Linked DNA regions of Homo sapiens. The protein of the gene in region 1 purifies or fractionates together with the protein of each later gene. This does not show direct contact. Each region holds a gene or a part of one and is shown on either strand. Other genes may lie near its edges.

Evidence for each region.
Region 2: the proteins of ADAT3 (region 1) and ABLIM1 purify together in Homo sapiens (affinity purification with mass spectrometry; one large-scale study listed by BioGRID and IntAct). This does not show direct contact.
Region 3: the proteins of ADAT3 (region 1) and POTEI purify together in Homo sapiens (affinity purification with mass spectrometry; one large-scale study listed by BioGRID and IntAct). This does not show direct contact.
Region 4: the proteins of ADAT3 (region 1) and TBC1D24 purify together in Homo sapiens (affinity purification with mass spectrometry; one large-scale study listed by BioGRID and IntAct). This does not show direct contact.
Region 5: the proteins of ADAT3 (region 1) and USP47 purify together in Homo sapiens (affinity purification with mass spectrometry; one large-scale study listed by BioGRID and IntAct). This does not show direct contact.

What each region holds. Positions count from the first base shown.
Region 1 is NC_000019.10:1,908,914-1,914,077, forward strand, and holds the end of ADAT3 (probable inactive tRNA-specific adenosine deaminase-like protein 3), read left to right. Parts: intron 1-2,976; 5' UTR 2,977-3,134; coding exon 3,135-4,238; 3' UTR 4,239-4,534; downstream 4,535-5,164.
Region 2 is NC_000010.11:114,646,548-114,652,682, reverse strand, and holds part of ABLIM1 (actin-binding LIM protein 1), read left to right. Parts: intron 1-6,135. UniProt on the Homo sapiens protein: May act as scaffold protein. May play a role in the development of the retina. Has been suggested to play a role in axon guidance.
Region 3 is NC_000002.12:130,504,781-130,511,428, reverse strand, and holds the start of POTEI (POTE ankyrin domain family member I), read left to right. Parts: upstream 1-2,100; 5' UTR 2,101-2,193; coding exon 2,194-2,714; intron 2,715-6,648.
Region 4 is NC_000016.10:2,491,086-2,497,220, reverse strand, and holds part of TBC1D24 (TBC1 domain family member 24), read right to left. Parts: intron 1,188-6,135; 5' UTR 1,073-1,187; coding exon 108-1,072; intron 1-107. UniProt on the Homo sapiens protein: May act as a GTPase-activating protein for Rab family protein(s). Involved in neuronal projections development, probably through a negative modulation of ARF6 function. Involved in the regulation of synaptic vesicle trafficking.
Region 5 is NC_000011.10:11,935,061-11,941,195, forward strand, and holds part of USP47 (ubiquitin carboxyl-terminal hydrolase 47), read left to right. Parts: intron 1-1,242; coding exon 1,243-1,450; intron 1,451-3,196; coding exon 3,197-3,312; intron 3,313-5,368; coding exon 5,369-5,488; intron 5,489-6,135. UniProt on the Homo sapiens protein: Ubiquitin-specific protease that specifically deubiquitinates monoubiquitinated DNA polymerase beta (POLB), stabilizing POLB thereby playing a role in base-excision repair (BER). Acts as a regulator of cell growth and genome integrity.

The DNA.
Region 1 (5,164 bases):
GGCCAACATGGTGGAACCCCGTCTCTACTGAAAATACAAAAATTAGCCGGGCGTGGTGGCATGTGCCTGTATTCCCAGCTACTAGGGGGGCTGAGGCAGGAGAATCGCTTGAACCTGGGAAGTGGAGGTTGCAGTGAGCTGAGATCATGCCACTGCACTCCAGCCTGGGCAACAGAGTGAGACTCTGTCTGAAAAAAAAAAAAATGTGGGCTGGGCATGGTGGCTTACGCCTGTAATCCAACCTCAGGCCTGCGGTGCGAGTCTGTGGGGGCAGATGCAGGTGGGGGAAGGCTGGCCAGCTGAGACTGTGGTTTGGGGGTGTTCAGGTGGGGTGGATGCCAGAGATGTGGGAGCCAGAGGCGCTGTCCCCCAGGGCCCTGTGAGCAGTCCCTGCAGGCTGGCTGTCCCCACGCCTGCCTCTCTGCTGTGCTGTCTGCCCGCCTAGGGCAGGCTCCCTTCTAATGGGCGGATCCCGAGAGCTGGGGGCCCCACCAGCCCTTCCTCTCCAGTGGAGTGGCCCTACTGCCTCATGTCCACCTGTGCCAGCAGCAGGGATGGTAATGGCTCTACTATCTCCTGTCCTCACCTGTGCCAGCAGCAGGGATGGTAACGGCTTTACTGCCTCCCGTCCTCACCTGTGCCAGTGGCTGGGATGTCTTCACCTGTGCCAGCAGCAGGGATGTCCTCACCTGTGCCAGCGGCAGGGATGGTAACAGTGCTGGTGATGTCAGGCCGGGAGGTTCTCACCCGAGAGCCGCCTTGGCACACTGCCCGGCAGTCAGGGATGTTAGCAGGAGCCCCGGGAGTGATCCCAGCTCTTCCCGCAGCCCCACTCCAGCCAGGGCCTCCTCTGTGACTGAGTAAGCAGGGACACCCCAGTGGCTGCCTGCTCCACCCGACAGCCAGGGCCCACCACAGCTGCAGGAATGTGGTCAAGGGATGGGAAGTCGGGCCCACCAGGGGAGGGGCTGCGCTCCGGGGCTTACGTTTCGTGGCTTGTCTTCTGAGGTCTCTCTTTTCCTAGCCCTTGGCCGACTAGGGGGCGAGTGTTTACAGAAACCACTGGAGGTGGGTGTTCCGTGTCAGTGCCAGGCTGTGTGCTGTTCTGGGAGGGGGCCCCGTGTCCCCCACACTTGGCATGCTTGCTTTCTGTCACTGCATAGCAGACTCCGTGCATCTGTGGGCTTAATACAACACCCGCCAGCTCCCGGTTCTGTGGGTCGGGGCCTGAATGTGACATGGCTGGCTCCTCTCTGCGGGGTCTCACCGGGCTGGAACCCAGGTGTCAGCCAGGGCTGTGTTGTCATCTGGAGGCTCAACGGGGGTGGCATCTGCTTGCAACTCACGCAGGCGTTGGCGGAATTCAGCAGCTTGCGGCCGGGGGACCAAGGGTCCTGCTCAGTTCCTGGCCACATGGCCCTTCTGTCTGGAAGCCAGGCGCCGCCTGTCCCCGCTTCTGCTTCCAGGCTCTGGCTTCTGGAGATGCAGAGATCACATCAGTGGTTGCCTGGGTTGCTGTGTGTGTTGTAGGGTGGTGAGACAAGTTTTCTCTTAGGGGTGATGGAATGTTCTGGAATTTTATAGTGGTGATGGTTGCACAACTCCAAGTGTCCTAAGAGCCACTGAATAGGACACTTGATAGTTTTTGGTTTTTGAGGTGTCTTTTTTTTTTTTTTTTTTTTGAGACAGAGTCTCGCTCTGTCACCAGGCTGGAGTGCAGTGGCACGATCTCGGCTCACTGCAACCTCTGCCTCCCAGGTTCAAGCAATTCTCTTGCCTCAGCTTCCTGAGTAGCTGGGATTACAGGTGCGTGGCACCATGCCCAGCTAATTTTTGTATTTTTAGTAGAGATGGGGTTTCACCATGTTGGTCAGGCTGGTCTCGATCTCGTGGCCTCATGATCTGCCCGCCTCAGCCTCCCAAAGTGCTGGGATTACAGGCTTAAGCCACCACGCCTGGCTTTTTTGTTGTTTTTTGACAGTCTCGCGCTGTTACCAGGCTGGAGTGCAGTGGCGCGATCTCGGCTCAATGTAACCTGCGCCTCCCAGGTTCAACCTTCTGGGTTCTCCTGCAAGCCTCAGCCTCCCTAGTAGCTGGGACTACAGGTGCGTGCCACCAGGCCTGGCCAATTCTTTGTATTTTTAGTAGAGACGGGGTTTCACCGTGTTAGCCAGGATGGTCTTGATCTCCTGACCTTGTGATCCGCCTGCCTCGGCCTCCCAAAGTGCTAGGATTACAGGCGTGAGCCACCGTGCCCGGGTTTTCATTTTTTTTTTGAGATGGCATCTTGCTCTGTCAGCCAGGCTGGGGTACAGTGGCACGATTGTAGCTCACTGCAGCCTTGAATTTCCGGCCTCAAGTGCTCCTCCTGTTTCAGCTTCTCGAGTAGCTGAAACCACCGGTGTGTGCCACCACGCCCAGCTAATTTTTTGATATTTAGTAGAAATGGGGTGTTGTTATGTTGCCTAGGCTGGTCTTAAACTCCTGGGCTCAAGTGATCCCCCCACCTCGGCCTCCCATAGTGCTGGGATTACAGGCGTGAGCCGCTGGTACCTAGCCATGAATTGTGCTTTTGAAAATGACCTGTCTTGGCTGGGCGCAGTGACTCACACCTGTAATCCCACCACCAGGTTGAAGCGGGTGGATCACGTGAGGTTAGGAGTTCGAGACCAGCCTGAACGACGTGGTGAAATCCCATCTCTACTAAAAATACACAAAAATTAGTCGGGCGTGGTGGCGCATGCCTGTAATCCCAGTTACTCTGGAGGCTGAGGCATGAGAATAGCTTGAACCCGGGAGGCGGAGGTTGCAGTGAGCTGAGATCATGCCACTGTACTCCAGCCTGGGCGACAGCGAGACTCCGTCTCAGAAGTAAAAAAATAAAATAAAAAAAAAAGAAAATGATCTGTCTTCTGGTAGGTGAATTATATCTTCGTTTTTAAAAACCAATGGCTGTTTAAACTCTGTGCACACCAGGGGTTAGCAGGACATGAGGGAGTGTAGCTCTGATGCGGTGACCTGGGCCGGAGCCCTCGGACTAGCCTCAGCTTTGGTGGCAGCACGCCCTGCCTTGTGGAGCCACGGCCTCCCGGGACGGACTCCCCGGCTCTCCCCCAGCCGCCCGCAGCCGCCGGATGATCCTCTGCTCCCGTCTCTGTCTCCCACAGTCGGCCTCGCTGAGGATGGAGCCCGCCCCGGGCCTCGTGGAGCAGCCCAAGTGCTTGGAGGCCGGGAGCCCGGAGCCTGAGCCGGCGCCGTGGCAGGCCCTCCCTGTCCTGTCCGAGAAGCAGTCAGGGGACGTGGAGCTGGTGCTGGCCTACGCCGCGCCCGTCCTGGACAAGCGCCAGACCTCACGCCTCCTGAAGGAGGTGTCGGCCCTGCACCCGCTCCCCGCCCAGCCTCACCTCAAGCGGGTGCGGCCCAGCCGCGATGCCGGCAGCCCCCACGCCCTGGAGATGCTGCTTTGCCTGGCTGGGCCGGCCTCGGGCCCGCGCTCGCTGGCTGAGCTCCTGCCACGGCCGGCTGTGGACCCCCGCGGCCTGGGGCAACCCTTCCTGGTGCCCGTGCCCGCCCGGCCGCCTCTGACCAGGGGCCAGTTCGAGGAGGCCCGGGCCCACTGGCCCACGTCCTTCCACGAGGACAAGCAGGTGACCAGCGCCCTGGCTGGGCGGCTCTTCTCCACGCAGGAGCGCGCCGCCATGCAGAGCCACATGGAGCGGGCGGTGTGGGCGGCCCGGCGGGCAGCAGCGCGGGGCTTGCGGGCCGTGGGGGCCGTGGTAGTGGACCCGGCCTCGGACCGCGTGCTGGCCACCGGCCACGACTGCAGCTGCGCGGACAACCCCCTCCTGCACGCCGTCATGGTGTGCGTGGACCTCGTGGCGCGCGGCCAGGGCCGCGGCACCTACGACTTCAGACCCTTCCCCGCCTGCTCCTTCGCCCCGGCCGCTGCCCCCCAGGCCGTCCGCGCAGGCGCCGTGCGTAAACTGGACGCAGACGAGGACGGCCTCCCCTACCTGTGCACTGGCTACGACCTGTACGTGACCCGCGAGCCCTGCGCCATGTGCGCCATGGCCCTGGTGCACGCACGCATCCTGCGCGTCTTCTACGGTGCGCCCTCGCCCGACGGCGCCCTGGGCACCCGCTTCCGCATCCACGCACGGCCCGACCTCAACCACCGCTTCCAGGTGTTCCGCGGGGTGCTGGAGGAGCAGTGCCGCTGGCTGGACCCCGACACGTAGGCGCCGCCCTCCTGCCTCCGGACCCTTCCCGCTCCCGGCCGTGGGGCGCCCCTCCTGGACTTCCGGGCCTCGATTTCTTCCGCACAAGCCTGACCGTGGATTTCAGGGACACATACCGCCTCCAGCGGGGAGCACGGGTGCTGCCTTCCGTGCGGATCGAGCTTTCCTGGACTCGGTCATTGGGGCCACCCCGTGCCAGCGGTGCCCTTCTGCGGCCGCCCTTGCTGCGTTTGTGTCCCCTCTGTCTCGCGGGCCGGGAAACTGCTCTGATGGGAAAATAAACAGCCCAAAACCAAGTGGGTGTCTGTTAGGAGGTGTGTGCCTTTGTGGCCAGGGTCCCGAGTGGGGTGGGGTCTGTACAGGGCCTGGTGGCTCAGCCGGAGGGGACCTGCTGAGCCACGTGTGGTCAGAGACCTGGGCTGATTCTGGGGTAGAGCAAGGCCCCCAGCTGCTGCCTCCTTTCCCGCTTCTGGAGTCCTGATGGTTCCAGGCGTGCCTGGCCCAAGTGTGTGGACACTAGGCGTAGTCCACAGGGCACCGACCCTAAGGAAGGGCCCTGGGATTTCGTGTCCTTCACAAGTGGCAACAGGGGACCCCAAAGGGCTGATGCTAGTCGGTCACAGCACAGTGAGGACTAGAGCCGTTTTTGCAGAACTTGGAGCAGGACCTGTGGGTCCACCCGGCAAGTGTCCATTGCCTGACCATGTGGGTGCAGCTTTGCCTCCAGACACGCCTGCTGTGAGCCCCCAGCCCATAGGGGAGGGGATCCGGCAGGTGGGGGCTCTGCGTGGGGAGCTCATGCAGTGGACAGAACACCACTGCTGGCCAGGAGCCCGCCAGGCCTGCAGTGGGGGAGTCCGTGCCTGGGGGTGGGACTGAGGTGGGCTGGAGGGTCCCGGATGGGGCCAGAGCCACAGCGTGGAGTG
Region 2 (6,135 bases), on another chromosome or scaffold:
GGATTCAGTGATTATGTTGTCAGCTGAGTCCAAATCCCAAAGCAGAATGTTCTGGACTGGAGAGCAGGGACCAAAGTAGACTTGGCAGTCCCCTCCCTGGAAAAGCAGTTCATATCCCAGAAGAGAGAAAGGTGGTTCATGTCTGATTCAGGCACCTGCTGAGACCTTTCTGTTACATGCAGCACACCAGGTGTTGTCTTCACTCGGAATGGTTTCCCAAGACCCAGATACTCAGGGTATCACGTAAGTGAGAGAACCTCTTGGGTACATTATTGTTTCTTAAAGCAATACCAACCTGTTTTCAAACTAAGTAGAACATATAACACTATAATATTTTTCTTTTAGTGTGCCCTTCTTACCCCATTCACTAATCCGCAACCCCAGACCTGTATGTCAGAGGGCTAGGGGAAGCGTCTTGGGTATAGTAGGCCATAGGCCACAAATGGCTTTGTTGTCAAAAAGACAGCATATTCTTCAAGATGCTGTGGAGCTTTTCTATAGCATCTTCCTGGTAACATTGAGAGTCTGTGTCAGGGAAAAGGTTTTAATTCTCTCCAAACCCTGAAACTCAGCTGTGAAGGCCCTCTATTACATTTGAGAGAAGTGTTTGAGCTAGCCATAAAAAATACATCCTGGGAAAGTTGGTAAGAAGGACCAGCATGTGGTTCCTGCCCTCAGACCCGCTCTCCTGACTGATGGCTTTGACTAGGCTACTTTGAGAGGCAAAGTAGTGACCGGCATCTGCTGCTGGCAAGGAGACACACTGTGTTGTGGCCTCCTGTTCCTCCAGCATGCTGGGTCCCCAGGGCCTCATCCGGTTTGTTGATGGGATATGGTTCCCCCCAAACAGCAGTCTTACTTTAACTTTTGTTCTCCTGAGGATGGAGATGATAGGTGGTGGCCAGTTACTTCTACATCTTGCAAGGGCATGAATGGAGAGGGATTTGAGGTTTCAGCTATTTGGGAAAGCATTAGATAGTTTGCATTTTTTTTTTATTTATAGTTACCAATAACCCCTTTTCAATTCCCTAGGCTTCTCATTCCATTAGTTTAATCATATTTCCCAGAATCATACGTTTCAAGCTCTTGACGGTTAAGCCTTTCTATCACGTCCCACTCTTAACCCCCAAACACCCGCATCAGTCTTCTTTGTCACAGATGTTTGAAGGATGCTTTCACGTTGGGCCTCTCTTTGTATGTGCAATTCTGCTGCCTGGCACAGTCTCCCCAGTTTCTCTGAGGCCCAGCAGGCTGCAGGTTAAGCTTTTCCTCCTCTGGGCCGGCCTGATCTTACCTCTTGCCTCGTCCTCCTCTGTGTTTTCATAGCATCCTCTGCACATCTTTGTTCAAGTTGCCTGTTTATAAGCTTCTCCCTTTTCATACACTGAGGTCCTCTCTGAGGGCAAGGAGAGAGCTGTGCTCTTATTTTTATTCCATTATAGTACCTGGCATGGAAAAAAAGCTGTGAGTGATGAGTAAATGAATGAGTGAATGTTCGCAGAAATCAAATCACTATGTTCGAAGAATACAATTCGGCATTAAATTGTCCCCCTGCCTTCAAGTAGCTGAGGCCAGGAGAAGCTGCAAAGCAAACTGGTTGCAAATTCAGGGTTATGGGGTCAGACCTCGCTGCCAAGTTCAAAGTCCAGCTCTGCTCTTTGCAGTTCTGTGACCTGGGCAAGTGACTTAATATGTCCGAGCCTTAGTTTTCTCGTATATAAAATGTGGATAATACTACCCACATTGCAGCGGTATTATGAGCCCTAAGAGAAAATACGTATTTTAGAAATGCTGGCATTTAGTTGGAGCTCGATAAATACTTCCCCCTCTTCTTCTCACCCAAATGTGTGAGAAGTTGAATAATTGTCTAGATAACAAATACAATTAGTTTTCAAAGGAAAGAAATATCACTGAAGGGAAAGAGAAAGTAGGATTTGCGATTTGAGCTGTAAAATAGATATGATTTACCCAAAATACGAGTAAAAGGAAAATAGCCCAATGATCTGAGAGTGGAAAGAAAAAGGTAGAAGTAAGACACTTTTCACCTAGTTCCACTGGCTGAATCTACTTGGTCCAGCTTTTTTTTTGTTTTATTGATGGTTGCTTTTTGTTTTGTTTATTTTATTTTTAGTCCTAGGAATGTGGGCAAGTAACTATTTTCACATGAAATGTTCCCATGTAAATTACTTCCTTGAGTGAGTAAATATGCTGCAATGCCCCATTCGTTTTAATTAAATGTACTTAAAAACTAATCTTATTTAAAGTCAGAGGGTAAAGCAGTCTGTTTAAGTTTATTGTTTGGCATTGTTTTAATCCAGGCTTTAAACAAATTTGAATCTTACTAAGAGTGGCTTACTTTCAAAGAAATCCCTGATTTCCCATCCTTTGATCCTAATGATTCTGGGGCATGACCCAGTGCTGATTATTATGGATGGACTCCTGTTAACTTGGCAAATCAGCCATGGACCTGTGACGGCCATGGGTACAAGACAAAGCTGCTAACAGAAAGGGAATATGGATTGTGTGGAGGCTGGGCACAGTGGCTCACGCCTGTAATCCCAGCACTTTGGGAGGCCGAGATGGGTGAATCACGAGGTCAGGAGGTCGAGACCAGCCTGGCCAACATAGTGAAACCCCGTCTCTACTAAAAAATACAAAAATTAGCCTGGCATGGTGGTGGGCGCCTGTAGTCCCAGCTACTCAGGAGGCTGAGGCTGGGAAATTGCTTGAACCTGGGAGGCAGAGGTTGCAGTGAGCCGAGATAGCACTACTGCACTCCAGCCTGGACAACAAAGTGAGACTTTGTCTCAAAAAAAAAAAGAAAAAAAAGAGGGGGGATATGGATTGTGTGTTACTCATTGGGGTGGACAGGTGGCCAGCACAGGCTTGATTTGTCTATGGACTACAAGACGAAGGCTACCAGTAGGAAGGTAATATAAGGTGAATACGTGGTCAGCAGATGGGTGATTCTGTCCCTGGGGTGGAAGATGAAGGCTGCCAACAGGAAGGAAGCATAGTCTGTGTGCTGTTTGTTAGGGCGTGTAGAGGTAGCCAGCAGGAAGATTCCTTTCTCAATCTCAGAAAGCAGCACACCCAGAATACACTAGAGAAACCCTTTGCAGAATCAGGATTTAAGTATGTCAGGATTTTAGATAGACTATGATATGATATGCACGAGGATTCTAGATATTTCTCAAAGGTAGAAATAAACCTTTGATATCAACACCTTTATTTATTTATTTATTTATTTATTTATTTATTTATTTATTTATTTATTTATTTTGACAGAGTCTTGCTCTGTCACCCAGGCTGGAGCACACTGGTGTGATCTTGGCTCACTGCAGCCTCTGCCTCCCGGGTTCCAGCGATTCTCTGTGCCTCCGCCTTCTGGGTGGCTAGGATTACAGGCATGCACCACCATGCCTGGCTAATATTTTTGTATTTTTAGTAGAGATGGGGTTTCACCATGTTGGCCAAAGCTGGTCTTGAACTCCTGACCTCAAATGACCTGCCCGCCTCGGCCTCCCAAAGCACTGGGGTTATAGGTGTGAGCCACCGTGCCCAGCCAACACCTTACTTTTGTAGGAAGTAAGAGACTGAGGTCCAGAGAAGTAAATGACTTTCCTAAGGTCTATGGTATAATCAGAGGGTAGTGTTAGATTAAGACCCTAGCTCTCCTCTCTCCCTGTTTGATATTACATGAGAAGACCAAAGGATTATTAATTTTTTTTTTTAAGTTCAGTTGGAGATTCAGCTCGGGTGAAACTTTCCTGTGGAGTCTCTCCAGACCTCTCCTCTTTTGGGCTCTGCTGTGTACCACACAAATGCCCATCCAAGCACCTCTATGCTTGGCTATTTGTATCTGTTTGTTTGCGTGTCTCCCTACCAGGTAGTAAGTGCCTTAGTGGCAGGACAGTTGTTTCCGTGGTTTCTTCAGACTATAACGCAGTGCTTGGTAAGTAAAGGTACTTCATACATTTTAAAATGGAGATGTAATGTAGTACACCATAACATTCACCACTTTAACATTTACGAGCCTGTGCATTTTAGTAGAACCACGAAGTTGTGCAACCATCCCACTATCTAATTCCAGAGCATTTTTATCAGCCCAGAAAGAAACCTTGTGCCCGTTAGAAAACATCCCTGATGACTCACATTCCTCAGCTGCTGGCAACGACTTATCTCCTTTAGGTGTTTGTGGGTTTTCCTATTCCAGACATTTCATCTGATTGGAATCATGTAACCTGTGATTTTTGTGTCTAGCTTCTTTTACTTAGTATAATGTTTTTAAGGCTCATCGAGGCGGTAGCATTTATCAATACCGTATTCCTTCTTATGGCTGAATAGTATCCCATTGTAGGGATATATCACATTTTCTTTATCTTTTCGTCAGCCGATGGTCATTTGTGTTGTTCCTGCTTTCTGGCTATTATGAATAATGCTGCTATGAACACTTGTTACATGTTTTTGTGTGAACGTGTTTTCAGTCCCCTTGGGTATATACCGAGGAGTGGAAATCCTGGGTCATACGATAATTCTCTGTTTAACTTTTTGAGAAACTGTCAAACCGTTTTCTACAGTGGCTATACCATTTTACATTCCCACCACTTAATACAATTTCAAATTAAATTAAAGCTATTCCCTCAAAGTGAAATAACCAGTTTTCCCATATGTACACAAATCCTATATGTACATTCTATTTACATCCTATATCTTAATCTTCAAAACTGCTTTTATCTTTACAACATAAAGGTCTGCAAACATTATATAAAGAAAGGTAGGGCCTTTACTTTGAGAAATCATTTAGCTGGCTTGTAAATTCACTTTCTGTAAGTGACTTACTGTGGCCCCCCAAGTTTTGTTTGTTTGCTGTTTAGAAGTCTTTCCTCATCCAAGTTCTGTGGCCATAGATAACAACCAAAATTAATCAGAGGACATCAGAGACATTATGACTCACAGAGCCCAGAAAAATCTAGCTCACAAAGGTTTGTCTGCAGCCCAAGTGGAGAGGGAGAATTCTCATGCCATAGAGTAGGATCTCCTGGGATAAAGATGAGCTGGGGAAGAAAAGTCAAATAGCTAGGGCCACAGCTAGCGCTCAGCCAGCTCCCTTTCTGTCCATCATGACCTGGATCATTTTGTAAGGTCATTTTTGACATCACTAGAATATTCTGGGGTGTTTAATATTTGCTGTCCTTGTGGGACAATTCCCAGTTCTGTTTCATATTGGTCTTTTCCCTGAAGTGCTATCATGTGATTCTAGTGTGTAGCTGGATATGTTCTGTTATCCTTTCCTTGGGCTCTTTTCCCTAAAGGGCACAGACTCTATCTTCACTTGGTAGCCAGTGGCATTATAGGGGCAGTGGCTACTTAATAACTGCCTAGGCTGGGCACGGTGGCTCACGCCTGTAATCTCAGTACTTTGGGAGGCCGAGGCAGGCGGATCACCTGAGGTCAGCAGTTCAAGACCAGTCTGGCCCAACATGGTGAAACCCTGTCCCTGCTAAAAATACAAAAAAATGAGCTGGGCATGGTGGTACACACCTGTAATCCCAACTACTTGGGAGGCTGAGGCACAATAATTGCTTGAACCCAGGAGGCAGGGGTTGCAGTGAGCCAAGATCGTGCCACTGCACTCCAGCCTGGGTGACAGAGTGAGACCCTGTCTCAAAAATAAATAAATAAATATTAATTAATTTATTAATTAATTTAAAAAACTGTCTAATCTTTGAGGTCACCAATTGGTCCAGTGCTATCCATGATGGGAATACTAAGTGAAGTTAATTGTTTAGTAATACTTCAACTGAACTTGATTTCACATAGATCGTGGTTCAATTGGTCTATTTTAAGAGTTTAAAGAAGATGCAAACAGGATCCAACACATTTCCTGGTTAACTTCTATATCTACATACCAAGAGTGATCCAGTTCATTTTTCTATATGTGGCAGCAGCTGCTGAAAAGATGTTGAGCCCAGCCAACCTCCTGTAACTCCTCCTGTAGTCGTGAGGACCACATTAGACTTGAAGCTCACCTTATCTCTCTTGCTGAGCGGCAAGCATTCCTTCCTTTGAATCTTCATACCGTTTGGTCGGTATCTCTGATTCCAATCCCTTTCTGCCTTGTTTTAGAGTTAT
Region 3 (6,648 bases), on another chromosome or scaffold:
GGAGCGGGAGAGGAGTGGTCCAGGAAGCCACGTGCAGGGGGTGCTGAGGAGCAGCAGGGAGGGAGGCCCCCTGTCTTACAGCTGGGGGCTGCACTTCTCCATAGGCCATTGCTGCCGGCAGGAGCAGGTTCAGGGTAGTGCAGAGGTGGAGAGCTGAACTGGAGTAGCTCACATAGCGAGAGGGAGGAGGGGTGTTCAAGGTAAGACGAGACCACGCTTTGGAGCCATTTTGCTCTACAGGGGAACAGAGAAATGGGATGCAGCTGGAGAGCGAAGCATGAAGAGGATGTTTTAAAGATGGGCCAGGAAAAAGCACGTTTGTCCAACTGACTAGAGAGGAAGAAGTGGGTGATTCAGGAGTGAGGTGGAAGGCAGAGGTGTCCTTAAGAGGTCTAGTCCGCCAGGGCAGGGGTGTGGCCATCCTTCTGCAGTAATGCAGGGAAGACACGTTGCCGTGAGGGGGCAGCCTGCAGATCTATTTTATTTATTTATTTATTTATTTATTTATTTATTTATTTATTTATTTATGAGATGGACTTTTGCTCTTGTTGCCCAGGCTGGAGTGCAATGGCAGTATCTTGGCTCACCGCAACCTCCGCCTCTCGGGATCAAGCGATTCTCCTGCCTCAGCCTCCCAAGTAGCTGGGATTACAGGCGTGCACCACCACGCCTGGCTAATTTTGTATTTTTAGTAGAGACAAGGTTTCTCCATGTTGGTCAGGCTGGTCTCGAACTCCCGACCTCAGGTGATCCACCTGCCTCGGTCTCCCAAAGTGCTGGGATTACAGGCATGAGCCACTGCACCCAGCCAGCCTGCAGATTTATTTTAATGAGAAAATCAAAGCAAAAGCAGGGGCATAAGTGGAGCATATGGATGGGACAGAGAACGTTGGAGGCTTTAGCAGAGAGAGGAAAGGGCAGGAAGGAGTCATCCACAGGAGGGGAGAGTACTGTCCTGTGACTGCTCCTCCAAGCCCCCTCTTGCCGGCGTGGACACAGCGGTCTGCACCTTGACCCTATTGCATGCCAGTGGAGCAGAGCCCCCCAGGCCAGAAGCCCTATAGCTGTTGGCCCTGGCTTGGACACCGGGCAGGGGGCACCGGGGCAGGAGCTGGCCGCGATCCTGTGGCCCCAAATGCCCCCTCGCTGATGGCCTCGTGTTCTGGGTGCAGAGCAAAGAGGACCAGGTGTCAAAGGCACCTCAGGCAGGCGCTGGGCTCAGTGGGCATCTTGTGCTCCGGGATTTTGAGGCCATTTGCAGCCAGCTCCTCCAGCCCCAGCTCCGAGCTGCAGACGCTGCCACGCACAACAGCACCGCCAGGAGTGTCCTGGGGGCTTTCTTCAGAGGAGGCTGTCAGCATCCTCAAGTTCCAGCCGCTTAGCCCCAGTCCTGCTTCAAGAGGCTTTTTTTTCACCAGAGGCTTCTCAATGGCCTGAAAGCTCAGCTGAGTCCCATGAAGTTTGCCAGGAACATAAGGCTGTCGGTGACATTCGTGGCGCCAAGATTTAAACACGCGGTTGCACGCATTGGCCACTGTCTGTGCCACATGCACTGACGCCACCTGAGATGCACACGCTGCACGCCGCACGCGCACGCCGCACGCGCACGCGGCAGCGGCTTGGCTGGCTTGTAATGGCTTGCACGCGCACGCCACACGCGCATAGCGGTTTGGCTGGCCTGTAACGGCTTGCACGCGCACGCCGCACGCGCGTAATGGCTTGGCTGGCCTGTAACGGCTTGCACGCGCATGCTGCACGCGGGTAACTGCTTGGCTGGCCTGTAGCGGCTTGGCTTGGCTTTGCGTTCTTTGCTTGGCTTGGTGTTGGTCGCTTGGCCTGGTGTTCCTCCTTGGATTGACGTTTCCTCCTTGGATTGGCGTTTCCTCTCTCGCGTTCCCTTGCTAGGCTTGACCTTTTCTCTGCTGGGTTTGGCATTCCCTTGGGTGGGCTGGGTGTTTTCTTGGGGGGGGGGGTTGGCCCTTCCTCGGGTGGGCGTGGGCTTTCCCCGGGTGGGTGTGGGTTTTCCCTGGGTGGGGTGGGTTGGGCTTACCTGCTGGGGTTGGCAGGTTTTGGCTGGGATTGACTTTTCTCTTCAAACAGATTGGAAACCCGGAGTTACCTGCTAGTTGGTGAAACTGGTTGGTAGACGTGATCTGCTCGCTACTACCGGCCTCCCCAGGCTGTTAAAAGCAGATGGTAGCTGAGGTTGATTCAATGCCGGCTGCCTCTTCTGTGAAGAAGCCATTTGTTCTCAGGAGCAAGATGGGCAAGTGGTGCCGCCACTGCTTCCCCTGCTGCAGGGGGAGCGGCAAGAGCAACGTGGGCACTTCTGGAGACCAGGACGACTCCACTATGAAGACACTCAGGAGCAAGATGGGCAAGTGGTGCTGCCACTGCTTCCCCTGCTGCAGGGGGAGTGGCAAGAGCAACGTGGGCACTTCTGGAGACCACGACGACTCCGCTATGAAGACGCTCAGGAGCAAGATGGGCAAGTGGTGCTGCCACTGCTTCCCCTGCTGCAGGGGGAGCGGCAAGAGCAACGTGGGTGCTTGGGGAGACTACGACGACAGCGCCTTCGTGGAGCCGAGATACCACGTCCGTCGAGAAGATCTGGACAAGCTCCACAGAGCTGCCTGGTGGGGTAAAGTCGCCAGAAAGGATCTGATCGTCATGCTCAGGGACACTGACGTGAACAAGCAGGACAAGCAAAAGAGGTAACCAGGCCTGGGCTGGGAGGAGGTGGGAGGTCGGGGGATGATGGGGACATACCCTCCTGGCGGGGGAGGAGGGGGACCTGGCTTTCTCACCTCCGCAGGCCTCACAGCACCCTGGTTGTGGAAACCTCAGAGAGGTCAGGGCACAGGCCCCTTTATGAACAGCAACACACACAAAAAAAACTTTAGCTGATTTCCAATCAAATTATAATTTCCCTCGTAGAACACTAATAGACTGTTTTAAAGTGATTTAACTTGCAAAATTAATTAAGTCAATGCAGCAGATTATTTTTAATCTACAGATTTTAAAACAATGTTCTATACATTATAGAAAAGTGTATATTGAGAACTAAGAATGAAGCCCCATAACACATCAACTTCAGGGCTAAATATTCTTCAAATAAAATCCAGTATGGATTTTATATCAATGTACCCTATGTAAATACGTTCTTTACTGAGGAACCTTAGAAGGAAACTGAAATGGGAAGATGGTTCCTGTGCTTGAATAGGAAGATTGAATTTTCTTAAGATGTGAGCTTTTTGGCTGGGCGCGGTGGCTCATGCCTGTAATCCCAGCACTTTGGGGAGGCGGGCGGATCACGAGGTCAGGAGATCGAGACCATCCTGGCTAACACGGTGAAACCCTGTCTCTACTAAAAATTATAAAAAAAATTAGCCGGGCACGGTGGCAGGTGCCTGTAGTCCCAGCTACTCAGGAGGCTGAGGCAGGAGAATGGCGTGAACTCGGGAGGCGGAGCTTGCAGTGAGCCAAGATAGTGCCACCGCACTCCAGCCTGGGAGACAGAGCGAGATTCCGTCTCAAAAAAAAAAAAAAAAAAAAAGATGTGAGCTTTTTCTATTTATCACTTTTACATAAGCCAAATAAAAATAGCAAAGTTTTAGCGTTTTTAAATTACACATGCTGTCTTTTATTATTGTGATAAATTAATTTTTTGTAACAGAATGGAAAAAGGCTTGCTTTTCCAGATATCAAAATGTGCATGTGTTATTTATTTCCACAAATTGTTTACTAACAGCTGAAAAGACATCAATGAATAGAACAGAATAGGAAATTTAGAAATACCCAAATATATGTAAGAATTTAGCACTTGATAATGGTGATGTTTTGTATTATTTAAAAAAGATGGATTGTTCATAATTCATTTTTGGAGAAAACTAGCTAGATTTTTATGTCACAAAAATAAGAGTATAGATTAAAAATTTTAAACATACAAAAGGAGAAACATACCAGAAAAAATATAAATGCCTATTTATATACGCAGATATATATATATATACATATATATACACATATATACATATATATACATATGTATATATACATATATATGTGTGTGTATATATATACATATATATGTGTGTGTGTGTGTGTGTGTATATATATATATATATATATATATATATATATATATATATATATCCTTTTTTTTTTGGTGGAGTCTCACTCTGTAGCCCAAGCTGGAGTGCAGTGGTGTGATCTCGGCTCACTGCAACCTCTGCCTCCTAGGTTCAAGCAATTCTCTGCTTCAGCCTACTGAGTAGCTGGGATTACAGGCGCCTGCCACCATGCCTGGCTAATTGTTTTGTATTTTTACTAGAGATGGGGTTTCACCATCTTGGCCAGGCAGGTCTTGAACTCCTGTCCTCGTGATCCACCCACCTTGGCCTCCCCAAGTGCTGGGGTTACAGGCGTGAGCCACCGTGCCTGGTGTATATATGCAGACATAATAAAATAAGCTCATTTTAAAATTGGGCAAAGTACTTTTTTTGCATATCTACCAGTGACCTATGCACATAGGAAAATACAGTGTTCCTGGTAGAAGAAGGAATTTAAGTTAGAAGAGGAATGAAATACTGCTTTCTATTTAAGTTAGAAGAGGAATGAAAGGCCGGGTGCAGTGGCTTACGCCTGTTATCCCAGCACTTTAGGAGGCTGAGGCGGTGGATCATGAAGTCAGGAGTTTGAGACCAGCCTGGCCAGTGTGGTGAAATCCCATCTCTACTAAAAATACAAAAAATTAGCTGGGCATGGTGGCACGCACCTGTAATCCCAGCTACTCAGGAGGCTGAAGCAAGAGAATTGCTTGAACCAGGGAGGTGGAGGTTGCAGTGAGCCGAGATCGCGCCACTACATTCCAGCCTGGGTGATAGAGTGAGACTCCATCTCAAAAAAAAAAGAAAAAAAAAAAAAAAGGAATGAAATACTGTTTTCCATCCACAAAGTTTGTGAGGATGAAGAACAGTGGTACTTATGTAGTTGTTTAAAGTTTAAGTTGCTGCAGCTTTTCAAACAGACACTTTAGTGGTAAGAACTACATTTTAAAAATGTGTATGCTTTTTACTTATCAATTCCATTATACTGAAATATCTTTACGAAATAGATGTGTTTTTCTTAGTATTGCTTAAAATAGCAGTGTATTTAGAAGAACCCATATAAAGATTTTATGAACAAATTTCAGTGCATCCATAGGATGGAATAATATGTAACTATTGAGGGTGTCAGTAGATACAGAGATATGTCGACGTGCAAAGATGTACTTTGCTATATCAAGTGAGAAAAAAATCAGTTTGTTACACATATACACGAACAGAATCTGCTCGTGTTAGCTGCAAATCTGTAGAAAATATAATCAAACTTGTTTCTGGGGATTTGTAAGTGAAGTTTTTCCCTTTCTCTTATCTGTGATTTCTGCAATGAACATCTGAAGTTGTAGTTAAGGTTCATTACTAATGCAATAATCCTTGGGAAGAGAAGGAATATGCTTCTTGCATAGATGCAAATAATTCCTCACATTCTATTATTTATTTTTATTTCTGTGGTTGGCTATTTTCTGTGAACTTTTACCCTCTTCAGAAGAAGAGGGGTCGTGTTTACCTGTTCCTGTAGATTTTATTATATATACATTTTATTCCATAATTATCTTTTCATTATATATAGATTAACATGTAAAAAGTATGAATTAATCATTTTAGTTGAGTTATATATTTATGAAAATTAAAATAGCAAATATAAATGATTATTGCTATTGCAAATGTATTGCGCTACTCTATAGGAGTTTTCTTTAAAAATATTGAACTCCCAAGCTGTGTTCATCCATTTTTCCTATCCATTTAGTCATCAGACATAAGCCAGACACCTATTATGTGGCAGGCATATTCTACTATCTCTCAGGATCCTTCCGTCTTTGAAAACTACATGTTTTCCTGCTGGGCTTGAGCAAGCTGAGAGATTTAAAATTGGGGCATTAGGACTTAATCTCAATTGAAGCTTTTCCTCCCTCCTTTCAAACAAAAGCATTTCTGGAGGTAGAAAATAGTAATAGATAACCTTTAACTGCCCTTTTGAAAATTTATGTCTTGGGGAAAAGACTGTTTTAGTTGTTTTAAGAACTAAAATGTGGTACATAAACAGCATGGAATAATATGCAGCCATAAAAGAAGGAACGAGAGCATGTCCTTTGCAGGGACATGGATGGTGTTGAAAGCCATTATCCTTAGCAAACTAACATAGGAAGAGAAAACCAAATACAGCACGTTCTCAATTACAGGTGGGAGCTAAATGATGAGAACACACAGATACCTAGAGGGAAGGAACACACACTGGGGCCTATCAGAGGGTGGAGGGTGGGAAGAGGGAAAGAAGCAGGAAATAGAATGAACAGGTACTGGGCTTAACACCTGGGTAATGAAATAATCTGTACAACCAACACCCTTGGTGCACATTTACCTATGTAACAAACCTGCACATCCAGCACATGTATCCCTGAATGTAAAAGTTGAAAAAAGCTCCACAAATAGTTTCATAAATCCATTTTAAAACAAGAAAATTTATAACAGTCTTAAATCCTAATATGAATGATTGGAAATATCTGATGTACATACATTGTATAAATCTAAGTGTTGACAAAAATGA
Region 4 (6,135 bases), on another chromosome or scaffold:
CCATGGGCAGAGGCCGCCTGGAGGCCGGCAGGATGAGCTCACGCCAGACACGTCCTGCCCCAGCCCCCGACCCTGGGTGTACCCCTCACAGGCTGCCGGCGACCTACCTCTTCTGCTTCACGGTGATGCCCTTCTGCTTCAGGGCTTTCTCATTGGCCATCTGCAGGAGCTGGATCTCCTTGCGGGAGAAGAGGCGGATGGCGAACGCTTTCTCCAGCAGCTTCTCAGGGGACACCGTCTTCGCGATGTCTCTGACGAACGTGCGGATGTCCTGCTTCACGCTGTCCGACTCCAGCGGCTGCCCGGCCCTCACCTTGTGGAAGAACTTGAGGATGGCCAGCGCCACGCGGTACAGCACCTTGTAGCCCTCCACCAGGAAGACGTCAAAGACCCGGGCGAAGTAGCAGAGGGGCAGCTCCCCAAACAGCCAGCGCTGCCAGTCCGCATAGACCTGCAGGACATCCTCCGACACGGCCACCATCAGCTTGTGGGCCGCCTGGCAGTACTTGTTCACCAGGTCCCCAAACGTCATGCAGGACGACTCAAAGGCCAGGAAGCTCTGGTCGATCAGCCTCCTGCCGGGGTCATTGCAGGCCAGGATGCGGCAGGCCTTCTCGAAGCACTCGGCCTCGTCGATGCTGTAGTGCAGCAGCAGGGCCACCACGGCCGGCAGGGCGGGGCAGAAGGAGATGTCGGGGAACTGGTTGGCCAGGCACAGGAGGATCTTGCGCACGGCCCCCTCGCCGCGTGCATTCAGGCAGTAGCTGGGCACCTGCGTGTTGTCCACGAACTCGGGCAGCGGCAGGCAGCTGCTGCTGTGCTTGCCCACGATCTTGCCCACGATGTCGCTGTACACGCTGGCGTCAGGCGTGACCGTGCGGCAGGGAATGTCCCGGATCAGGCGCTGGTACACCTTTCCCCGCAGGGCGTGGCTTTGGGCCCAGTAGCCCTGGCGCGCCAGCTGCTTCAGTTCCTGCAGTTCAGTGCAGCTCAGCTCCTTGGGCCCCAGGTCCTGGATGGCAGCGTCCATCTTGTCTTTGTCCACGAAGCAGTTGTATCCTGGAGAGTCCATAGCGCCGCTGTGCTCGGGAGGAGGCCCTGGACTGCCGGAAGGGGAGGACAGAGTGGCTAAATCCTCCAGCCCCCTTTCTGAGGGTTTCCTGCAAACCTGTCTGCCATCTCACACCCTGCAGGATTAAAAAAACACTTTTAGCATCTGTGTTTCAAGGTTCACATTTTAAAGAACGTATTTTTTCAAATGTGGTGTAGTTTTCTTTTCTTTTGAGACAGGGTCTCGCTCTGTTGCCCAGGTTGGAGTGCGGTGCAGTGGCGTGACCCTGCTCTCTGCAGCCTTGAATGGCTTGAACCATCTTCCTGCCTCAGCCTCCTGAGTAGCTGGGACGACAGGTGTCCACCACCATGCCCAGTTAATTTTTTTTTTTGAGATGGAGTCTCACCCTGTCGCCCAGGCTGGAGTACAGTGTCACGATCTCCACTCACGGCAACCTCCTCGCCCCTGGTTCAAGCGATTCTCCAGACTCAGCCTTCTGAGTAGCTGGGACTAAAGGCATGCACCACCATGCCTGGCTAATTTTTTGTATTTTTACTAGAGACAGGGTTTCACCATGTTGGTCAGGCTGGTCTCAAACTCCTGACCTTGTGATGTGCCTGCCTTGGCCTCCCAAAGTGTGGGATTACAGACGAGAGCCACCGCCCTGGCCTAATTTTTTATTTTTTTGTAGAGACAGGGTCTCGCTATGCTCTCCAGGCTGGTCTTGAACTCCTGGGCTCAAGCAATCCTCCTGTCTTGGCCTCCCAAAATGTTGGGATTACAGGCATGAGCCACTGTGCCCGGCCTTGTTTTGTTTTGTTTGAGACAAGGTCTTGTGCTGACATCCAGGCTAGAGTGCAATGGCACCATCTCGGCACACTGCAACTTCTGCCTCCTGGGCTCAGGTGATCCTCCCACCTCAGCTATAGCTGAGACTACAGTTAGGCGCCACCACGCCCAGCTAATTTTTTCTCTTTTTAGTAGAGACGAGATTTTGCCATGTTACCCAGACTGGTCTTAAACTCCTGATCTCAAGCAATCCACCCACCACAGCCTCCCAAAGTGCTGGGATTACAAGTGTGAGCCAGTGCTCCTGGCCTGTTTTTTTGTTTATTATTATTATTATTATTTATTTTGTGTGTGTGTGTGTGTGTGTGTGTGTGTGTGATGGGGTCTTGTTCTGTCACCCAGGTTGGCCTTGAACCGCAGGCCTCAAGTGATCTTCCCACCATGCTGGAATTACGAGTGAGAGTCACGTTGCGCAGCCACATTATTTGCCTTAATCTTTGTGTAAGTATTAGAAGGGCTTCCACTTAAGATAAGTGACTTTTGAGAAGCCGTTACAAACTTTGGAGTATACCTTCTTTTCACAGAACTTATGAAGTTACTGGAATACATCACACAGATTCTGAGTAATGAGAGGCTAGAGATAGAGTTCCCAGAAGGGCTTCAAGAGCTTGGCCCTTGGCTGGGCACAGTGGCTCATATCTATAATCTCAGCTACTCAGGAGGCCAAGGTGGGAGGACTAGTTGAGGCCAGGAGTTCAAGACCAGCCTGGGCAACATGGTGAGACCCCATCTCTACCAAAAAAAGAGGCTGACCCTGCTGAAAACACCTTTCCACTCGAGCATGGTCCACTCCAGGCTCCTAAACACCACCCTGCACCCTGGGGGCCTTCTGAAAAGGAACCCCCAGTTGAGAAGATCACTTTGAGCAAAGAGATGCTTCGTTCTAGTTCTCCCTTTTTTTTTTTTTTTGAGACAGAGTCTTGCACTGTCGCACGGGCTGGAGTGCAGTGGCGTAATCTCGGCTCACTGCAACTTCCGCCTCCCGGGCTCAAGTGATTCTCCTGCCTCAGCCTCCTGAGTAGCTGGGACTACAGGCACCCGCCACCACACCCAGCCAGTTTTTGTATTTTTAGTAGAGATGGGGTTTCACCATGTTGGCCAGGCTGGTCTCGAACTCCTGATCTCGTGATCCACCCACCTCGGCCTCCCAAAGTGTTGGGATTACAGGCGTGAGCCACCACGCCCAGCCCGTTCCCAGTTCTCTTTAACCAGCTGTGTGTGCTAAGAAAGTCACAGCCTATGCTATCCCACCCTGTCGGAATTCTGAAGCCGGCTCTTAACTTTCTAAAACCACCAGCTTGAAAGCTATGCTTCAGGCAGGTGCTCCAGGGAGGAATCTCTGGTGAGGAGCAGGCATTTTCCAGAGGGAGAGCTGGGACCTAAATGGAAGGTGCTGCAGCTTTAAAACTGCACATTTCTGGATCCGAATGGGCCAGAAGTCAAGTGGGGGTGGTTGGTGTTTCTCCAAGAACAGCAACCCCTGGGCTCAGGCAAACATAAAAGGAGTGGGTAAGACGTGCCCTGTGGGATTCTGGACAACAGGTGGCTGCCCTGGCCCAAGGATACCGTCCTGCGCACAGAAGTGCAAGGTTTGCTTACGCACATCAGACTAACCTTTCCACCTGGGATGGTAGAAGTTCCCAGTGTGCCCCAGGGGTCTGCTTCAGCAGGTTTTGGTTGAGTGACCAGACCACTCCGGTTTCTCTTGCAGCTAGAACATTCACCTACCTATTATAAGGCAAATACTGCTTTAAAACAGTTCTTGAAAAGTAAAAATCATAGTGTAAAACGTACGTCTGCGAGACACTGTCTTGGGAAAACACCTCGACACGTGTTTTTGTGTGTGTGGTAAAATACACATAGCATAAAATTTACCATGTTAGGCCGGACGCGGTGGCTCACGCCTGTAATCCCAGCACTTTGGGAGGCCGAGGCGGGTGGATCACGAGGTCAGGAGATCGAGACCATCCTGGCTAACACAGTGAAACCCTGTCTCTACTAAAAATACAAAAAAACTAGCCGGGCGTGGTTGCGGGAGCCTGTAGTACCAGCTACTCGGGAGGCTGAGGCAGGAGAATGACGTGAACCTGGGAGGCGGAGATTGCAGTGAGCCGAGATTGTGCCACTGCACTCCAGCCCAGGCGACAGAGCAAGACTCTGTCTCAAACAAACAAACAAACAAACAAAAAATTTACCATTTTAGCCATTTTTTATTTATTTATTTTTTTGAGACAGAGTGCCGCACTGTCGTCCAGGCTGGAGTGCAGTGGCGTAATCTCAGCTCACTGCAACCTCCGCCTCCCTGGGTTCAAGCGATTCCCCTGCCTCAGCCTCCCAAGTAGCTGGGATTACAGGCATGTGCCACCACGCCCGGCTAATTTTGTATTTTTAGTAGAGACAGGGATTGTCCATGTTGGTCAGGCTGGTCTCGAACTCCCGACCTCAGGTGATCCGCCCGCCTCAGCCTCCCAAAGTGCTGAGATTAGAAGCGTGAGCCACCGAAGTTGATTTTAATGTATCCCACTGGAAAAACCTTGCCCACAGCAGGACTAGGCCTCAGAAGAAAAGAAACCCTTAAGACCATTGATTGGTTTGCTTCGTCCTGGGAGGGAAGGCAGTGAGGGCTCCCCCTTTCCCTGGTCCTGAAGGTCAGGCCGACAGGTCCACTCACATGCGCACAGCCACGCCTGGGTCACACTGCACAATCTTACACGTGTCGGTCGGTTATCCACAGCTTACATCCCTCCTTCCCTGCTATGGGCCCACTAGCCTCTGGAGGAACTCCAGGCCCATCCTGTTTGGGTGAAAGAACTGGCTCCTTCTTAAGGCAATAAACATGTTTCTAAACAGAACAGGAGCTGGGCAGAGCAGCACCAGCCTCCACTCGGCTGGCCCCAGATTCAGGTTGAATATTAAACTGGAAACAGTAAAAGCTGTGGGTGCACCTTGCGAAGTTCCCTTAGGGAGATGCAGATCCCAAGTTGTGTTTACTGCCGCGAATGGTCCGGCGACGTGCTGGACTCACAGGGACCCCCGAGCCAAGGATGTGTGCAAAAGACCCGAGGGAGCCCTTGGATTCTTTCTTGTTCCCCAAACCCTCACTCAAAAAGAGCGCACGACATTTCTGGGGCTGTGCACACAAGGCAACAACCCACTTAAGGCATCTATAAAAACCAGGTCCAGGCCAGCAAAGGGGCTCACATCTGTAATCCCAGCACTTTGGGAGGCTCAGGCAGGAGGATCACTTCAGCCCAGGAGTTCAAGACCAGCCTGGGCAACATAATGAGACCTCATCTCTACCAAAAATAAAAAAAAATGGCCAGGCCTGGTGGCATGCACCTGTAATCCCAGCTATTTGGGAGGCTGAACGGGGACGACCTTTGGACGCCAAGCCCAGGAGTTCAAGACTAGCCCACACAACATGGCAAAACCCCATCTCTACAAAAAAATACCAAAATTAGCCAGGCGGGCCAAGCACGGTGGCTCATGCCTGTAATCCCAGCACTTTGGGAGGCCGAGGCAGGTGGATCACAGGGTTAGGAGTTTGAGACCAGCCTGGCCAGCAGGTAAAACCCCGTCTCTACTAAAAATACAAAAAATTAGCTGGGTGTGGTGGCACATGCCTGTAGTCCCAGCTACGTGGGAGGCTGAGGCAGGAGAATCGCTTGAACCCGGCAGGCAGAGGTTGCAGTGAGCCAAGATGGAGCCACTGCACTCTAGACTGGACGACAGAGTGAGACTCCATCTCAAAAAAAAAAAAAAAAATTAGCCAGGCGTGGTGGCGCATACCTGTAGTCCCAGCTACTCAGGAGGTTAAGGTGGGAGGATCACCAGAGCCCAGGAGGTCAAGGCTGCAGTGGGACCTGATTGTACCACTGAACTCCATCCAGCCTGGGTGACAGAGCAAGACCCTGTCTGAAAAAAAAAATAAAATGAAAACAAAAATAAAAAATAAATACATAAATAAAAACGAGGTCCAGATTGGTTTCCTTAGGTTAAAAAAAAAGTCTTTCATTACGCTGGTGATATTTGAATGCAAAAATCACAAAAAGTCAAATAGTACCAAAATTAGGGAGTAAAAATGTAGAGTTCTGTTTAAATTACCTCTCTAATCCTACTCCCCTTCCACATACAGATAATCGCTATTCACATTTTGGTATATATCCTGCCAAACCTTTTTCTTGCATTCACAACTGAGTGAGGTTTTCTTTAAACTGGCAACTGAGATGAGGAGG
Region 5 (6,135 bases), on another chromosome or scaffold:
TTGGAGCCTGGAAATAGGCATTTTAACACATATCTCAGGTGATTCTTAGGCATAGTCAAGTTTGAGAATCACTTATATTATACATCTGGTCCTGCATAGCACTTATCAGTATTGAAATTTTACATTTAATTGTTTGACTATTTTAATTAATATTACTGCCCCTCACTAAACTATAAGCACATACAAGTGCAAAAACCATTCTGGTTTTGCTCACAGTTTTATTTTTAGTACTCTTCCCTGGTATATAGAATAGTCAAAATTGGTTGGGTATGTTGAATGGATAAATGAATGAACAAACATTAAGATGGATGGATGGCTCTGGATTTGCTTCATTTTGGTAAAAATTCTTTAAATATAATGGTGGACTGCAAGCATTAGTCTTGAAAATAGGAAGTAAAAGTTCGCAAATAAAAAGAAACAAACAAACAGAAAAGAGAAATAAGTCAATCTTATATGCCAAAAATAGAGCTTCATTGTTGGGGATGGGGGTTGGGGAGGAGTAGAGATCAATGGGGATACGCTGAGGCTTACAAGTCCTTCTTGAAACTCATAATCACAACCTTAAATGAACATTGAATACTTCTAAGCAATCCTACTGTGTTTCTCTAGGAGGCTTATTTCCTATCAAGAGAGTTGTTGCAACCAGGGTATGTCATCTATTGGTGACATAAGCTATAAGGAAATGTTATGATAGAAATTCCTATACCATGAGCTTTAAGTATTCTGGAGGCTAATATTGAAAGGGGATATCGTAGAAGCCAAACCCTTTGTGATGGCTTTATGAGACATGCTGTCCTCCTGTACTTAGATTGTTACTAGTTACATGAATTATCAATTCTACTCCAGATTGGATTAAGAAAACAAAAGGTGCATATTCTAGTTGGCTGTTTGGTTGTTTTCCTCTGTGTTTCCAGATTAGTTGATTATGAACAATAGTTACAATACATTGATTTTGTTTCTACACCTAAAGTTTATGATGTTAACTTTTTAAAAAATAAAAAATGTATTTAGTACATGCTTTATATGATTGGAGGGATAATGAAACATAATTATTTAAAAATAACATTTAAGTTGTGCCTGTAACTTTGATGTCTTTGATGCAAATCATAAATGTGTGGATTTTGTTAGGGCCTATTGTAATGTTATTCCCCAACAGACTAAAACACTGTGTATTTATATATGTATATATATAAATATATATGTATATATATTTTTTCTTTCTGGGGGATTACTTTCTTTTAGATGATGGATTTAGAAGAGGTAATACCCCTGGATTGCTGTCGCCTTGTTAAATATGATGAGTTTCATGATTATCTAGAACGGTCATATGAAGGAGAAGAAGATACACCAATGGGGCTTCTACTAGGTGGCGTCAAGTCAACATATATGTTTGATCTGCTGTTGGAGACGAGAAAGCCTGATCAGGTTTTCCAATCTTATAAACCTGGAGGTGAGCAATTTTACACTATTTTTAGTTGTTCTGTACTTAGAATTTTCATGAGAAAGTTTTTTTTTTTATTGTAGAAATGAACATAATTTAAATTTTGTATATGGTCTTAAAATGTAGAATAATTTTGACAGGTTGAGAAGTACTCAGCAACAGCTTGGAATTAAGTTCTAGATTACTTGCAAAGAGTTGTGTACATAATTTTAAAAACAACAAAAAACAACAAAGCTTCTAGCTTACGGTCTTCAGTGGGTTTTTTCTTCTCCAGTGGGCGGTACTGAATCATTCTGGATGCTGTCAATCCCTAAAGTTATCAATTGCTCTCTTAGGAAGATCTCTCTTTCTCTTTCTTTCTCTTTATGGAGAAGACCTTGGTCCAAAAAAGTATATTCCCATAAAGTCTCAGAAGTAGAGGCTGTTTTTCAGGTCTTCTTTGGAAGGGTGGATTCATTATCCCATCACTGTCAGCATTTACAATTTTTCGTCATCCTCTCTATTTCTACAGGTCCCAGGGACTTCATCTTTTCTTTCTTCATTAAATCTATCACATTCACTCAGCACATTGAGTTTGTTATTTTTTTTTCTTTGAGACTGCTTAGGAAAACCAAAATATCATGCCCCTAGTTTTCCCAGAGACAGTTTCCCTATAGACAGTTACATGGTCTGTTTTTGTCCAGAGTTTTCTATAATTACCATATGTAAATTGTAACAAATAGAAGAAAAGCAGAATGTTTATATAATTTTACAAAATCCATACTGTTTTGTCTTGGCCCTAACTCCTTTGCATCAGTGGTTAGTGAGAATTAGGTTCTCTGTGTTTTTTCCCTAAAAGTTGAACTTACAAAACTTTATTCTGCCCTTTTACAATAATGTTCTTCTGTGGATCCTGTATATCTCCTTTTTAAATGAAGGCCTCTGTTTACAGAGTAGGTTAGATGTAGTATTCTTTCAAGGAGTCTACGGCTCTTAAGTGGGAAAATTTTATTTCTGGAAACCTTATGATGTCTACTTCGACTTCTAAGACTCTACCCTATCTATAAAGAGTCCCTTAAGGACATTTCCTTGCTTTTTTTTTTTTTTTGCTAGACAAGAAAAAGAATGATTAGGATATAACATGAGTCAGCAGTAATACCACTTATTTGAAAGAGAACTCTAAATGCAAGTGTGGATTGTAAGACTTATAAAGTAGTCTTTATTCATTAATAATCAAGATCTTAGCAGAATATTTTGTCAAATTTAGATTAACAACGTAGGGAAAAAACTGAGGATTGACATAAAACATGAGGTTAAAACAGATACAGAATAACTGTGTATTAAGTACAATGTTTGAAGATCATTTATTTTTCAAGTGATTAAGAGTTTAATTGTAAACATAACCTTCTGAAAACAGAAGAGAATGGGATTAAATTTCAATATAAAAGATTTAAGTGAGAAAACAAAGGCATAATCAGAACAGTTTTTGTGTGGAATTTTCCTTGGGATATAGGAAATATTATTTTGAGGATAAGTCTTTGATGATGAACAAGGTGGCTTAATAAGGGGTTTGTTCAAAAGCAAGCAGGAGTGCTGTGTCACCTTTAATATTTGTTTTGCAGTAACTGGTGATTTATATTTATTCAGTGTTGTTTTCATCTGTACTTGGAAGTTTGGATTTGTCACCTGTTAGAAACACATTAAGAATGCATTACTCATGTGAAATACATTAAAAAATAACCTCCAATTCTGTGTTTATGTCTTCAAATGTGACAGAAGTGATGGTGAAAGTTCATGTTGTTGATCTAAAGGCAGAATCTGTAGCTGCTCCTATAACTGTTCGTGCTTACTTAAATCAGACAGTTACAGAATTCAAACAACTGATTTCAAAGGTAAGTTTTAAAAGGGGTCTGTAAATAAATTTTTGAGAGCCTGCTATGTACAAGACACACTATGTGACAGTTATGAATAAGATACATGCTTTACCTCCAGGAGCTAATTAATATTTGTAGTTAGGAGACAACTGTAGTTAAAAGAAACAGATTGAGTAAAGTGTGGAGGTAAGAAAGTGTAAGGCAAGTACATATAACAACTTATATGTGTTGGCTGGATTATCATAAAATACAGGATTGGAAATGTAAGTACAGTTTATTTCATGAAGAGCTTTAAACAGTAAACACGAAAGTTTGGGCTCCTTTTTGGCGTAGGCAATAAGTCGAGTTTTTGTTTTCGTCATTTTTAAGTGCGGCAATGCTGCATTTAGTGTCTGGTGACACTAGACTAGCGTTCCACATGCCTTGAGGGGAGTCAGGAATGGAGAGGAGGAAGCTGTTGAAATAATTCAAGTGCAGTTGTATGACTGGAAATGAGAGAAGGCATGGATTCCAAGAGAGATAGAATCTGTAGGACTTGTAATTGTTAAATGTTGGGGTAAAGCAGATGCACCGATGACCTGAGCCAGGGGTTTCAAACTTGGGTAACCAGAAAAGTAGGGATACATTAATAGAAATAGAGGAGGAAGGTGAGGCTGTAGACTTGACAGGGAAGGTGATGAATTAAATACTGGTGCCATTATGTGAGCTAGTGATAAAGAACATAGGCTCATTCCGATTTTTTGAGCTGGAAAAATATAACAATGAAAACATTCAAATTTTGGGGGGCAAAAGGATTAGTCCACACCAGACAAATGATTATCATCCTTACAAGGGTCCTGTACTCTGCAGAACCCTGAGCATACAAACGGCAGATTTTGCAGGGTTCTTGAACCGTAGGTTAATATTCCCTGGTGTAGTGGAAATTGTTCCATAATTACAAGTTGAGTCCAGTTTTCAGTCATTCATCTTATGGTAGTCTTGTCTTTCATCTCATTATCTGGGGTTGTAAATACCTGTTTAGCAGAGTTGTAGTGAACATTAATGAAAAATAAATAAATGCTCTGAGGAAAAAAATTGTAAGGCATTATGTAAGAGTTGGTGGTTATTATGTTCTAAAAAAAAGTCTATATTTTGACTTCTGTATATGACTTCTAACAATTTTGCTAAAGTAATAACCAAGAAACAAATCATTTTGTGAAATTATATTTTATGATTAAATTGCTTGTAAATGCATACTATGTTGGTATAATATACTGTATATTACATTTTTAAAATATGAATGACAAATGTAAAAAAAATTAGTTTAATAAGCACTCACACATAATACAAAAGAAAGAGACACAGTAGTTTCTTCCCCAAGAAGTTAATAATCTTACTGAGAAAAATATGTCTATAGAGAATAAAGGCAGTCACAAAACATCATGTAAACAAATACAGTATTTTTAACCAGCCTGCTTAAGAATTAGGTATTTATAACTGATGACCTTAGTTGCATTGAAAAGAAATTGTGTTTTTTAAATGTAAAGTATTTTTATCTGCTGCTTTCATGTCAATTTATAAAATGACTCCAAAAATTAAAGATGTGGACTTTCAGAAAAACTTAAAATTTTCCCTACTAATCTTCTCATTTTACACAAAGGAAAATTGCTTATTGCTTTAATAAAAGTATTAAAAACTATTCACAGACTATAGAAAGGCCTGTCAAAAGCCAAGAAGTTCAACATTTTGATATCAGCAGTCAAAAAGTCAGTTACGCAGTTTCTTTGGAATCAGATCACTCATTTACTTGGCAAGTTTGAGAGCAATAGAGATTCTAGGAAAAAATCCTTACCTTTAAAATAGTTTCAGAGCATACATTTATAAATGGTACTTTGTTCTCCTGATTTGCAGTATAATTTATGGCTATAAGTAATTTTTCCCTTCAATTATTCAAAAATTTTAAAACCTCTACTAAAATTATGTTTCTCTCTGCTGCTTTTAAGAAGAACTCAGCAGTGTCTTGCTTTCCCATATTTTTAAGTCAAGCAGAATTATTTTTGAAAGAGTACTTTTTATTAAATTGCTTTCATTATAGGCCATCCATTTACCTGCTGAAACAATGAGAATAGTGCTGGAACGCTGCTACAATGATTTGCGTCTTCTCAGTGTCTCCAGTAAAACCCTGAAAGCTGAAGGATTTTTTAGAAGTAACAAGGTATGTCATTTACTTTTTCATTACTATTTTCTATGCTGGTAGTAGTAAATGAAATTAGGTTCAATATTATAAGCCTGGCCTCCACAGCTGTTCAACATCTGTCTGGAACTTAATTTAAAATTCTCAACCCAGTAATTACCTTCCTTTGTAGTCAGGTCAGGTCAGGCTCCCTTCTGTCCTGTGAATCAGTCCTACTGGTTCTCCTCTTCTTTGCCTTTGTTCATGTGCACTCCCACCTGGAGTGTTCTTCCTCCTCTCCCTGCATTTTTTTTTTTTCAGTCTCCAGATTAGTCCTACCTCTTTGGTGAAGACTTCATAACCATTTCTTCCCACAGTGATTATGTCCCCTGGATTGTGTTTATTCTTGAGCTTGTCCCATAAAGCAGTGCTTCATGGTGAGGGTCAGAGGCATACCTGGTATAGAGAAAATTATAATCTTGAGTTCACCCAACATTATTCCTTTTGCCTACTTATTTTTCTCTGTTGGAAATGAGAAAGTTCATGTTAATCCTCTTCTTTTGTCTTGCTATTATTATGTGTTTGATCATTTATCATTTTTCATATGTGTTTTTATCACTCTAGTCTCATTCATCTTAGTACAGTCTAGTCTTTTATCTCATTTAACTTTTTTAGTATTTTATTACTAA